Regions from separate parts of the Homo sapiens genome. Here regions 1 and 3 are each reported to be linked to region 2. The links are microRNA targets in miRTarBase. Many come from high-throughput screens and were not tested one by one. Region 2 holds a microRNA gene; each other region holds the end of a gene's coding sequence.

Region 1 (4,060 bases), not on the chromosome of region 2:
ATCCCTAAATTCTTTTCACTGATATTCTCAATTTGCTATTCTCCAGATACCATTTCCTGAATTAAATTCTGTTGATCTTTTTCACTCAAAAAAAGTGATGAGTTATCTCCAGAACATTGATTTTTATCAACCTTGAGAGTAATACTGCCTTTATATATTATAATGATCAGAATGTTCTGTACATTTCCACTGCTTCAAAATTGTTTGTAATAATTACTTGGACATAAGACCTGCCACTGACTCACACTTTATAAAAAGGATTTTAAGTCCATGTGTGTAGCATTACCCGGATATAATTCTCTAGAAAGAGAATTCCCATTTTATTCATTTATTTATTTTTTGCAAACAATTTTAGAGGCAGGGTGTTAAACTGATTAAAATTTCACAAGATTGACATTATTGCTTAAAGTGCTTGAATTGGTTACATTTTAAAAAATTAAGGTACAGATTATTTTAAATAAAAACTACAATATTTTTAGCAACAAAATAATAGGAATGCCACACAAATACAGTAACTATTTTGGTTATACAGAAATGGAAGCCAAAAATAAATTAATGTAATACTGGAAAACAGAAATTTAATTAGGCAGAAAAGTAGGAAATAATTTTCCCTGACCCATGCCACTTACATGAGTTCATTACAATAGTGCTGATAAATGCCTTGACCATATAATAGCAAACAAGGGCAAAACATTTAGTGCACAATATTTTAATACACGTGAATATACAAAGTTGATCAAAATGCAATGTTGAAAGATAAAATCCATCTGTAATAAAGCTACACTCCAATATCTAAAATAAGCCCTAAGCTCCAGTTAGAACATAGATCATTATTAGGCATGCCCATGAAATTAAGGGTATCCATGAAAATAAATGCATAGGGATCATTTCTGACATTTTTCCCTATTTTATCTTAAACCCAAAATACACCAGGCCATAAAACCAAATATGATTGACTTCCTATTCAAACTAATGCCCTGCTTGTGTTGTGCCTCACTCTCTTTAGACCAGTCCATTTCCTATGACCACAGAAGTGAAAATGCATCAACACAATAGGACCAGATGCCAGCATTTTACCAACATTTACTTTTAAACACATGATTTTTTAGCATGCTGTGCCATAACCTAGAGGCTAAACTAGTAAGTAACCAATAAAGCAAATGTTCCTTCTGTTTTTTTTTTAAAGTGTAAAACATTGTAACTTATTTTGTAACACCCAGCAGTTACAAGAAATACAGCAGGCCTACTCACTCCTGCAGATGACACACGGAATCCTTGGCCATTGGAGGGAATACTGCAGAGCCTTTGGGCTATCGCTGACCTCAGAATGGTCTCACATCTCCCACACCATTTCCTGCTTTACACTGTGAATGAGGGATGTAAACTAAAAGTGTTTGCATGTTACTGTCTTTACATAAAGAGACATGATTGGGAGAAACCTGCAGCTGCCCAGTGTTTGTTTCATTTATTGAGAAGGAAGAGGGAAAAAATTAGCAGATAGCTCTAAATTTTAAAAAGCTGATGGAGTGTTGCTGGAGAAGTGTGTTTTGGTCTTTTTCCAATCTTCTTTTCCTGCACCATACAACTGTTTTAATGTGTTTGCAATATTTTCTTATACTTACCCTTTTTCGTTCCAAAAATCTATCCATGAATGCTGAATTTTAACTGACTCTTTCTATTAAAAGGAATTACTTCGATTAAATAACTGGGAAAAACATTTTGCACAACCAAATAGAAAAGAAATATCCTGAACTTATGACTTAGCATTTAAACATTACTTCTACAGCCTTCCAACTGAAATATTTTTTCTAATAAATTAGCTTCAAGAGGTGTTTCAAAGATAATTTTAATAACTTTTCTTATGAATCAGTTCCAAATATATTAGAGACCAACCATCATGTTCTTAAAACTTTGTAACTTGCAGTCAAATATATGGATTCTATATAGTACAAACATTTCCCTACATCAATCACCTTCAGTTGGAAAGTGCCTCTCCTTAAAAAGAGATCAAAACTCACCTTCCAGGTAGTGATTACTGCGTAAGTTTCATGGAGGAAAAAAAAATATTTATAAATGTGAAATTGCCTCTAAACAAGGCAAGGTACATTTCCATCACTTGTATAAAACAATAACATGAAGATCACCCTGTTTTGTCTTCTCCAGTGAAAAGTAAAACATTTCACTTCAAGCATAAACAAACGAAATGTTGGCATGCTTACTTAAGTTCTGAGCAATAAACAGTTCAAGATATTTCAAAGATAAGAAATCCAGTTTTCATCTAGATAAAGTGCTATCCTCTTCATTGTTGCAAAATGGCCACTAACATTTTCCATTTCAATTTTAGTTCACATTATGCCCAAAGTTTGCATGTTCATCAGTGGATGCATTAGGTAACAAAAATATGTTCACAGTTTATTATAGTGTATGGAAGTTAAGTGGCTTCTAAAGGAAGCCAAGATCTATGACTCAAAAACCAGCTCAACAGCAAAACACCAAATGACCCTTTTAAAGGTACCAATATTCAAATGCTCTAATAAATACATATATAACAAAAGTGAAAAAAGTAACTATAGTGAGATGAGGTTCTTCCAAAAAAATTCTGTCTTGTCAAGCATTCTAGGAGTCTGAGCCAAAGAAACAGCGCCATTTTGTTCATTCCTCCCCCTGCCCACGGACACTTCCTTTGAGCCACCTCTATACCCAGCTAACTCTGGTATTCCCTCTAGGGAAGGTTCTGTATCAGCCCTGGGACTCGCCAGTGCCTCAGTAAACAGACGGACTATGTTAAAAAGTTAAGTTGTACAACGTGCTGATGGCTGGAAAGATGTAGTACCTTTGTTATTCCTGATAAGGAACAATGCCGTGCTGACTGGCTAAGGGGAGGTTTGCCAGCCCTGCAGCCATTGACTGCCACATCAGCAGGATTGGAAAGATACCTTGAAAAGCTTAGCAGTGCCGGATACAGGATAAATACAACTCACAGGGCCTTACATAAGTGTCACTGAAAATAAACAACATAGAGTTATTTTCCTGAAACTTGGTTTTGGTAGAAAGGTACGAAAATAACTTTTCATTGTCCACAAAAACTTCCTCCTCTTGACTTTGTCTGCCCTGAGCCTTCTTAGCCCCTGGAATTGTAATGGCTAGGTCAGCACAGCCCAGTGCCAATGCCAGCCAACACCAGCCGCCACGGACAGCTTCTCTTCACCCTGTTTCATGTCAAGGATGATTTTAATATCGAGGTTACTCACTTTTCAACATTTTCACTTGCACAAACTTAAAGCTATACTTGCACCCCTAAAAGGTGAATATCTACCCAATTCTTCTGTCCTTGTATCAGAAGAGAGGCAGAGAAGCTGAAAATGGGTAGCAATGCTTCCAGGGACAAGTTAAAGGAATGCATTGTAAGAAGACCCTGGAAGCCATAGAAGTTTAGCAAACACCTAAAACAGACCGTAGACATTCATAGGAAATGTCATTCTAATACAGCCAGACATAATGAATGGCATAGCTTTCACCCAGTCCTAAAATTAGCAACCGTTATTCATATAAATCAGACTACAATCTGATTGCAGTTAACTCTATGTCAGACTGAAATAAAACCAAGAGTAGTGCTGCATGTAAAAACACAAAAGGAGAGAGTCTAACACAGCCAGACCATTGAGACTCGGAGTGATACCATTAGTGGGCCACTGGGGAAGAGGAAAGCCTGCGGAGAAGCCGGGTGACAGTGCTGTGAACATTCTCCCCACGTGAATCAGTCCCGCAGGTCTTTCAGTTACTCTCTTGACTGATAGAATAAAATATATCCAGATTCTGAATTTTTTGATATATCTGACGTCAGGCCATAGAATTCTTCAATAGCTTGAGCATCTATTTTCTGCAATAAAGGAGAAAGAAAACAACACAATTACTTAACATGATTCCTGGGGAAAGGAAATAAAAACTAATGGAATATATATTAAAATGCAAGGAACACAATTTGTTATGAAATCATCATTAGGAACTTTCAATAGCAAATGGAGAATTCCACAGACTTGGCTAAAGGACATCATCACAT
Region 2 (4,067 bases):
TGAGTGATTTCCAATAACAACGCTAGTGTAAACAACCACACTCACCCATGCACCAAACAGGTGGCAAATCTCACCAGGTGTCAGACACTGAGAGAAGCACCAGGGACACACAAATGGCAAACCCCAGTCCTGCCCCGTGGACCGCACCATCCAAGGTAGAGGGCAGGCAGTCACCAACATGGTGGCAAGTGGCCGATGCGAGCCTAGGACCTGGGATAACAGAGCATGGTGTGAAGTCAGCCTGGGCAGGGGCAGGAAGGCTGCCGTGCGAGGGGTGGAAGATCTCAGAACTGAAAAGATCCTGTCTTGGGCACTTCTAGGAAGAAGAGAAAGCTGCTGGGCAGGGTGAGACCCAGACTCTGTTGAGGAAAGAGAGGAGAGCTGGCCAGCCCGATCTCAATCCCGCAGGCCAGAGGTCCATTGGGGCCCTCTTCCAAACACCTCCTCTTCCCTGACCACCCCAGTGAGGATCTGACACTACTGCCCATCTGCAAGTAAAATAGGGACTGCTCCTTTGTAAAACAGGGACCCTAAAATGCAGATGAGGCCAGGCATGGAGGCTCATGCCTGTAATCCCAGCACTTTGGGAGGCCGAGGTGGGCGATCACCTGAGGTCAGGTGTTTGAGACCAGCCTGGCCAACACGGTGAAACCCCGTCTCTACTAAAAATACAAAAATTAGCCAGGTGCAGTGGTGTGCCCCTGTAATCCCAGCTACTCGGGAGGCTGAGACAGCAGAATCACTTGAACCCAGGAGGCAGAGGCTGCAGTGAGCCGAGATAGCACCCCCGCACTCCAGCCTCGTCAACAAATCGTCAACAAAAAAAAATAAAATGCAGACGAACCTCCAGAAGACAAGGACAAAAACCGCAACCTGGGTGTGAGAACACCCAGGCCCTAGGCCTTAAGAGGGATGGTAACCCCTAGCCCTGTCATCTACAAAATAAGGTCACAGCAGAGCTAGATGATCTATAATGTCACAGCTGAAGTTAAAAAATTCAATGAGTTGATCACACCCAACTCAAGGTGCTGGCTTAAGGATTAAGAAGGAACACATGTGTCAAAAACCATTAGGCTGCAAAGCAGTGCCACCGATGATCATGTGTACAACAACAACCCCCTAAATGTGTGGCCCACTCCCAGTGAGCCAGCCCTGGGCTCAGAATTCTACATTCATGGCCGGGAGCGGTGGCTCACGCCTGTAATCCCAGCACTTTGGGAGGCCAAGGCAGGTGGATCACGAGATCAAGAGATTGAGACCATCCTGGCCAACATGGTGAAACCCCGTCTGTACTGAAAATATAAAAATTAGCTGGGAGTGCCCCTGCAGGCCCAGCTACTTGGGAGGCTGAGGCAGGAGAATCGCTTGAACCCCAGAGGCGGAGGTTGCAGTGAGGCGAGATCGCGCCACTGCACTCCAGCCTAGGCGACAGAGCGAGACTCCGTCTCAAAAAAAAAAATTCTACATTCATTATCTCCTTCGTCCTCACAACAAACCTGGAGAATGCAGAGGTGCTACATTTCTACCCACTTTATAGACCAAAATGTGAAGTTACAGGTTAGTCATTGTTGAAGCCAGAAACCAGGAGTCAGACTCGGGCAGGGGGGGCCTCTGGAGCTCCTGAAGGCCATCCCCACTCCCTAAACAAGGTTGAGAAGGTGTGGTTTAAAGAGGAACACCATGGAAGGAAACCAGTGCTTTCTTCACTTTTTAGTCTGGCAAAACAATCCTTCAAGTTGTTCCGTGGTTTGGAGAACAGTAATGTGTATGGGTAACAGGTGCTCAGTGGTACGGACAAGGTTATACATTTCCAGCCTCAGAGTCTTCAAGGCAGCTTGCTGGTAGGAGAACCTGGATTTGCTCATGCAGTCTTGGGCACAGCCCTCACTTACCTTAGATGCTCACCCAGCTTGGGGTGGGGCACAGCCCCTCCAGACTCCAGCCCAAACAATCCCCATCACCTCCGCATTTCCTAGTACAACACACAGCACCGAATCTATTCAGTGGCCTAAGCTGGACACAGAAAAGAACATTTTACCCCTTCCTTCCTGTAACCCCAGAGGCTCTTCGTGCACCGCGTTCAGGGACTTCTCTCTTGGGTCTCCAGTGCATCCCTGTCTCCTCCAGCTCAGGCCCCGTCACCACTGGCCACCAGCTTGGACCTCCCTCTGATCTTGTCTTCCTATGGCAGAGGCCATGCTTTCTGAAATGCTAATCTCTCCCTCTCTCACCTCTGCTTAAAATCTGCATCATGAGACCATCGCCCTCAGCACAAAGTCAAAATGGTCTTTCTAGGATCTGGCCTCTGCTTACCTTTCCTGTCTCCCTCCTGCCTCTTCTCTGGGCAAACTCCTTCCTTCCCCTGACCACCCTAAGTCCACACCCTGGGCCCTTCTGTGTGCCTATGGCACCCTGTGTCCCCAGGCAGGCACCTTGGCTGTGATTATCTGATTTCTCATCTAAATTCCTCCCCTATTCGTGCCCGCCCGCCCCCCCCACCCCCAAACACACACACAAGAGAACAAAAAATCTCTAAGGAAAAAGAGCACTTCCAACTCATTCCTGTACTTCCAGAATGCATGCAGCACCATGCCTGGCCTGCAGTATGTGCTCAATTAAACTATTGCATAATGAGAAATACCCTATGTTTTGAAGTGTCCAGGAAATTGAAACAATAATACTCTCTCCCCACAAAAAACAGAAAACAGTTATCTATGCCTCAGTTTTTGTGTCTGAAAAATGGAGACAGACTCCAGAACAGGGTTGACAGGAAGGAAGTACCTCAAAGCAAACCCTGCAGAGGCCTTCAGTGATAAGTGTTCACTTTCCCTATCTTCAGCTTGCTGATTTCCCTATCGTGGTGCATCCATCCAGAAGGCCACAAAGATCCTATCTCCCACCAACTGAACTTCAAAAGCATCTTTATCTGCAGAACCCACCTCAAGGAAGGTCGATTCCTAACTTCTCTCGGTGATCCTTTTATTCTGGGCTAGCTAGGCACACCCGCCCAGCCTTATCTGTAATGTCCCCAAGCTGTTGTCTTTCCAGGAAGGGTGTCTCCTATCTACAGGCCTCCAGGAGGCAAGACCAGGGAGGCAAATGGAGGAGAGCCACTCTGTGACCTGAGATCTGGCTTCTGCCACCCTCAAGCTGTGTGACCTGGGACAAATCAACCCATTCATCAGAGGCTCAGCTTCCCCATGTACCCCTCTGTTCAAAAAAGGGAGTAGACTCACGGACCCTCCAACTTGGAAACTGCAGTAACAGGCTGTACTGGACATGTTGAATGAACACCACAATGGCTGCCTAAGCCGATCCCTTCTAGCAAAAGAGGGAGAGTGAAGCAGAAAGAAATCAGGGAAATTTCCAGAAATCATGTCATCCTGGGTTGCCTGAAGATGACAAAACTACGACGTACAGGAGACCCCTTCCAGGAATCACATACTGCATCCGGGGAAGGCCAGAAGTAAGTGCAGACATACATGAAAAGGCAGGCATTAGGGATGGTTAAGTGGATGCCAATTCCCTGCTTCCAGAAATGAACTCAGCCTAATGAAAATTCTGCAGGCGCCTCACCTGTATATTGCACTTGGGGCTAGGAGTGCAAGCCACCCAGGGGCTCCTGACGGGCTGCTCACCTAGGTCCCAACCCCCTTCTGCCATTTCCTAACCGGTTTGTTCTCAGCCTCTTTGAACTTCAGATGCTGAGCAGCTTAACAATGTCTGAACAGCCTAAATCAGCCTCTGGCCCATTAAAGATGTCTGTTTCCTGCCTCCTTTCCTTAAAGAGTTTCAATAAGAAGAGCTCCTTTAAGGGTAGGCACTGGGTCTTTTTTTTTTTTTTTTTTTTTTTTCCTGAGACAGAGTCTCGCGCTGTTGCCAGGCTGGAGTAGAGTGGCGCCATCTCGGCTAACTGCAACCTCTGCCTCCCGGGTTCAAGCGATTCTCTTGCCTTAGCCTACCGAGTAGCTGGGACTATAGGCACGTGCCACCACGTGCAGCTAATTTTTGTATTTTTAGTAGAGATGGGTTTTCACCATGTTGGCCAGGCTGATCTCGATCTCTTG
Region 3 (4,060 bases), not on the chromosome of region 2:
GCCTGGGTAACACAGAGATCCAGTCTTTACGAAAAACTGCAACATTAGCTGGGCGTGGCAGCATGCACCTGTAGTCCCAGCTACTCCAGAGGCTGAAGCCGGAGGATCGCCTGAACACAGGAATTCAAGGCTGCATTGAGCTACAATCACGCCACTGCACTCCAGCCTGGGCAACAGAGCAAAGCCCTGTCTCAAGAAAACAAACAAACCCACTTTTATACTCTTGACGCTGGGTAAGCATCTTCTATAATGGGTATATTTAAAGGATTTGGGATTAATATTGTAGTAGGCAAGCACTATTTGTATTCTAGAATATTGCCCTTGCTTTCTAGCTTTAACATTTTCTGTCTCAATTTACACTATTTGTACTAGGTAATATTCACTTTTCTTTTGGTTGTCATTTATTGTTTTCAACACTATCTTCATGACCTGTTTGTGTTCAGAGTGGCTCACAGATAAGGAAACATTTTTGCCCAGTCTTAAGTTCATGGAAGATAATAGGAAGAGTAATTAACTGCAGCAAAAGGTTAGGACAAAACATGGCATTATCAGGGCTTGAAAGGACTTTATTGTGGCTGTGGTGAAGCAGGCCCTGGTCTTGGCAGATGATACCAGAAGGGCACTGAGTGCCAGCGTGCAACTTGAATTTGATCCCATAAAGTCAGGCATCAGGAAGCCATTCAGAATTTTTCACCCTGTCAGATGCTCAGATTTGCTAGAGAACTCTGGTAGTGGCAAGAACCAGAGCTGTTACTCAGAATTGGGACAGAGGCATTGTCCCAAAAAAAAAAAAGCCCAAATCAGAGCAGTGGCAATGTAAGTGCAGGGAGGACATGATGTGGGATTATTTAGAAAACAGGCCAAATGACATGCAACTACTCTGCGGATACAGACGAAGCAGGAATCAGGGACCCAATAAGTCTCAGGTGCTTTCAAGTAAGAGCATGTAGGTGGAAAGGGGCAGGACTCTGGGTTCCATTCTAAGTAACTGAGACTGAAGCAACAGTGGAACCTCCAGATACAGATAACCCCTGACAGACTGAAATACGATCTGGCGACAGCAAGGAGGTGGCAGCTTGAGAGAGGTCTACAACCCACCTAATGGTTTAGAGCCACCTGACTACCAGGCCTGTGTGTGGACGGGAAAGTCCTGAGGATTGGACTCTGGAAAACCATCACACTTAAGAGACAGAGGAAAAAGAGCAGTCACGGAGGTAGGTCACGAAATGGGTCAACAGGACCCCCGAAGAGTTCAAGATACTGGAAAGCACTGGCCATGAGTGCCAGATCTCCAGCACACACATCATGAATTTGCTTCTCCCCAGAGGAAAAGAAGCTCCTTCAGGGTGGTGCCTGGCTCAGGGTAGCTGGTCAACAACTAGCTTTTAAAAAAACAGAGACACGGTCTCACTATGTAGCCCAGGCTGGACTTGAAATCCTGGGCTCAAGCGGTCATCCCACTCAGCCTCCCAAAATGCTGGGATTATAGGCGTGAGCCACTGTGCACAGCCAATAACTACTTGTTAAGTGAATGAAGAGGTAGGAGCTGGGCTCTAAGTGGCCACTGGACTTGCTGATTAGAAGGGAGTGATGCCATAAACCACAGCCACTTTCAGGACAGCAGCCTGCCTCCTCTCCTCCTACCCCTATCCTGTCCAACACCTAAGCATAGTAGTACCACTGGGAGTCTGTCTCCTCAAAAGCAAGAATGTTCAGGTACACATGTGTGAGTTCACCTCCTAACTATAGGGGAGAAAGCCTGTCTTTATGTATAAGTCTCATTCACCCATTTTGACCAAAACCCTTCAGAGGGAGATGCTGTCATTATGATGGGTACCTCTTCAAGACTACGCAACAGTAACAGAGCCTATAAAAGCTACACAGAGGCCGGGTGCGGTGGCTCACGCCTGTAATCCCAGCACTCTGGGAGGCCAAGGCAGGCGGATCACCTGAGGTCAGGAGTTCGAGACCAGCCTGGCCAACATGGTGAAATCCTGTCTCTACTAAAAATACAAAAATTAGCTGGGCGTGCTGGCTCACGCCTGTAGTCCCAGCTACTCGAGAGGCTGAGGCACGAGAATCGCTTGAACCTGGTAGGCAGAGATTGCAGTGAGCTGAGATTATACCACCGCACTCCAGCCTGAGTGACAGAGTGAGATATGGCCTCAAAAAACAAAAAAAAGCCACACAGAATACAAGCAAGAAAGTACTTTTAGATTAAAATTCGTCTTATGTGAATTATGGCAAATGAAATCACCCCACTGTTTACCTGTTTTATGAGTTTTTACATTTGCTTAAAATTAGCATACTTGATCTTTTACAGTTCCCATCTCCACCAATTAGTATTGGCAGATTTCCACTATATGTAGAAGTCAAAAGATCAGACTGTAAAAATATCAGATATTGTAATTAAGAGCTCCAAACAAGTCTTGCAGTTTCAAAGGTAGAAACCCACCCAGCCAGTTCAGCTGCTTGGACTTCAAAGCCCTCCGCCTAGCCATCTCAGCCAGGCTCAGGTTCCTTCTCCCACCCATCAGGCCAAGCAGGACTTGTCAAACATACACATTCAAGTTCCTAGCACACAGTAGGTGCTAAGTGGGAATTGATTATAAACTTGAATTCTTCCATCAACAAATATCCACCTCTCCTGTCCAGCTTGCCTCAGATCTTCAGGTTCTCTCTTCTCTGAGGCAGCTAAGCTTCTACATCCTTCATGAAGTTTCCTTTACTTCTCGACAGAAGACAGTTCCCTTTAGGCCTATCATCTCTAAATGCAACTGGCTTTCCATTTTCCACTTACTCAACACTCCACAAAGTACACTTGCTACATGGTATTTATTCAATGACTGTATATTTAGTCACCACCTCAATCACTGCTAAGCTCTCTTCATGTCTATCTGTACCACAGTTTCCCATCTTAGACTGTGACGTCAGCTGGCAAGGGCTGGCTGTTGGCCGATTCATCATGACTGACATGGTGTGTCACAAAGAGCTCCAAGTAAATGCTGTGAAGGAAGAGGATGAGGATGGAGATGAGGATCCTGAGAAGGGCCCAGACTGGCTGCCCAACCCATGGACCTGAGGCCTGAGTAAGGCCTGGGAGCTGCTTTCCCCTCTGCCCAGGAACTCTGTCCAGGGGCGATTCTAAGGCACAGTGGTGAAGGACATGATTGGTCCCCCAAGTGTGGTCCTCAGGTCTCATGGCAGCCACTCGCCTGGGAACAGTGCAACAAGCATTCCATTTAGAAGATCTTCCAGAACACACACAAGAAGCATTGTCTAATGAAAATGGAGACAAGGTCTTTCTTGGAAGAGAGTGCCCAAGTAGATACTCTCTGCCCCAAGACTAACCAGGTCCCTTTTAAGGTCCCTGAGAACAGCAGCCTGGGAGCAACCAAGCCTTTCAAAGGCTGACAAGGCACAGAGTGGATGAATGGAACGAACGATACATGAAAAAAACACTTTGGCTGATAAAACCTCCAACCTGAGGCAGGGACAGTGTCGCTCGCTGACATGCAGAAACATGACTGTAGCAGAGATGATGATGATGAGAAATGCTTCGCATTTCCCACACTGCCGATATCCCAAGCCCTGTGCTACCACCCTCTCCCCGAACACACACACACACACACACACACACACACACACACACACACACACAGAGCATCTGCAGAATAAGTCAGAGGTTGACACCCAGAGCCTGACGTCAGGATAGGACTCTTGGCACTCCGCACTGAAACACCGTGATTAGTCCTGACTAGACAGCAAAAGTAACGCCAGCCTAAGCTTGAAATGAAGGGTCCATCTTGTGAAAAGTTAGGCTGCGCCCAAGACAGCCAGGTCTGGGAAGTCTTTCACTTCTCCTACTTCGCTGAAAGGCTGTCCACCTTGGTTGAATGTCAGCTTGTACCGTAAGCGGATAGGTTCCTGGGACAGAAGAGACAGAAGATGTCAAATCAGTGGAGAGCAACCCAGGAACAGGGGTCAATGTTAAGTCAAGTGAGTGTTTCAAACAATTCTGACACAAAATACCTGGGATACTCTCTTTGGGACTACAAAC

The links. The annotated mature microRNA hsa-miR-1205 reads UCUGCAGGGUUUGCUUUGAG and lies in region 2 at 2,782-2,801, opposite strand. An mRNA with a match to its seed (bases 2 to 7 or 8) in the 3' UTR can be bound and repressed. Matches are read on the target gene's strand: a 7mer-m8 pairs with bases 2 to 8, a 7mer-A1 pairs with bases 2 to 7 and ends in A, and an 8mer does both.
Region 1: the mRNA of USP46 is a reported target of hsa-miR-1205. The part of its 3' UTR that is shown has no 7-base or 8-base seed match.
Region 3: miRTarBase lists GGA2 as a target of hsa-miR-1205. Seed matches in the 3' UTR shown: 7mer-A1 at 3,667-3,673.

Annotation. Positions count from the first base shown.
Region 1 is chr4:52,593,862-52,597,921 of GRCh38, forward strand. USP46 (ubiquitin specific peptidase 46) reads right to left here. Exons shown (of 9, transcript NM_022832.4): 9 at 1-3,880. The coding sequence ends at 3,779. Among named protein-coding and RNA genes, the nearest start is that of USP46, 63 kb to the right of the region's middle.
Region 2 is chr8:127,959,374-127,963,440 of GRCh38, reverse strand. It overlaps MIR1205 (microRNA 1205), which reads right to left and starts at 2,808; the gene lies at 2,746-2,808. All of the region lies in intron 3 of PVT1 (Pvt1 oncogene), which reads right to left. RefSeq lists a cis regulatory region at 2,939-3,050 and an enhancer at 2,457-3,432.
Region 3 is chr16:23,463,774-23,467,833 of GRCh38, forward strand. GGA2 (golgi associated, gamma adaptin ear containing, ARF binding protein 2) reads right to left here. Exons shown (of 17, transcript NM_015044.4): 17 at 1-3,927. The coding sequence ends at 3,817. Among named protein-coding and RNA genes, the nearest start is that of COG7, 13 kb to the left of the region's middle.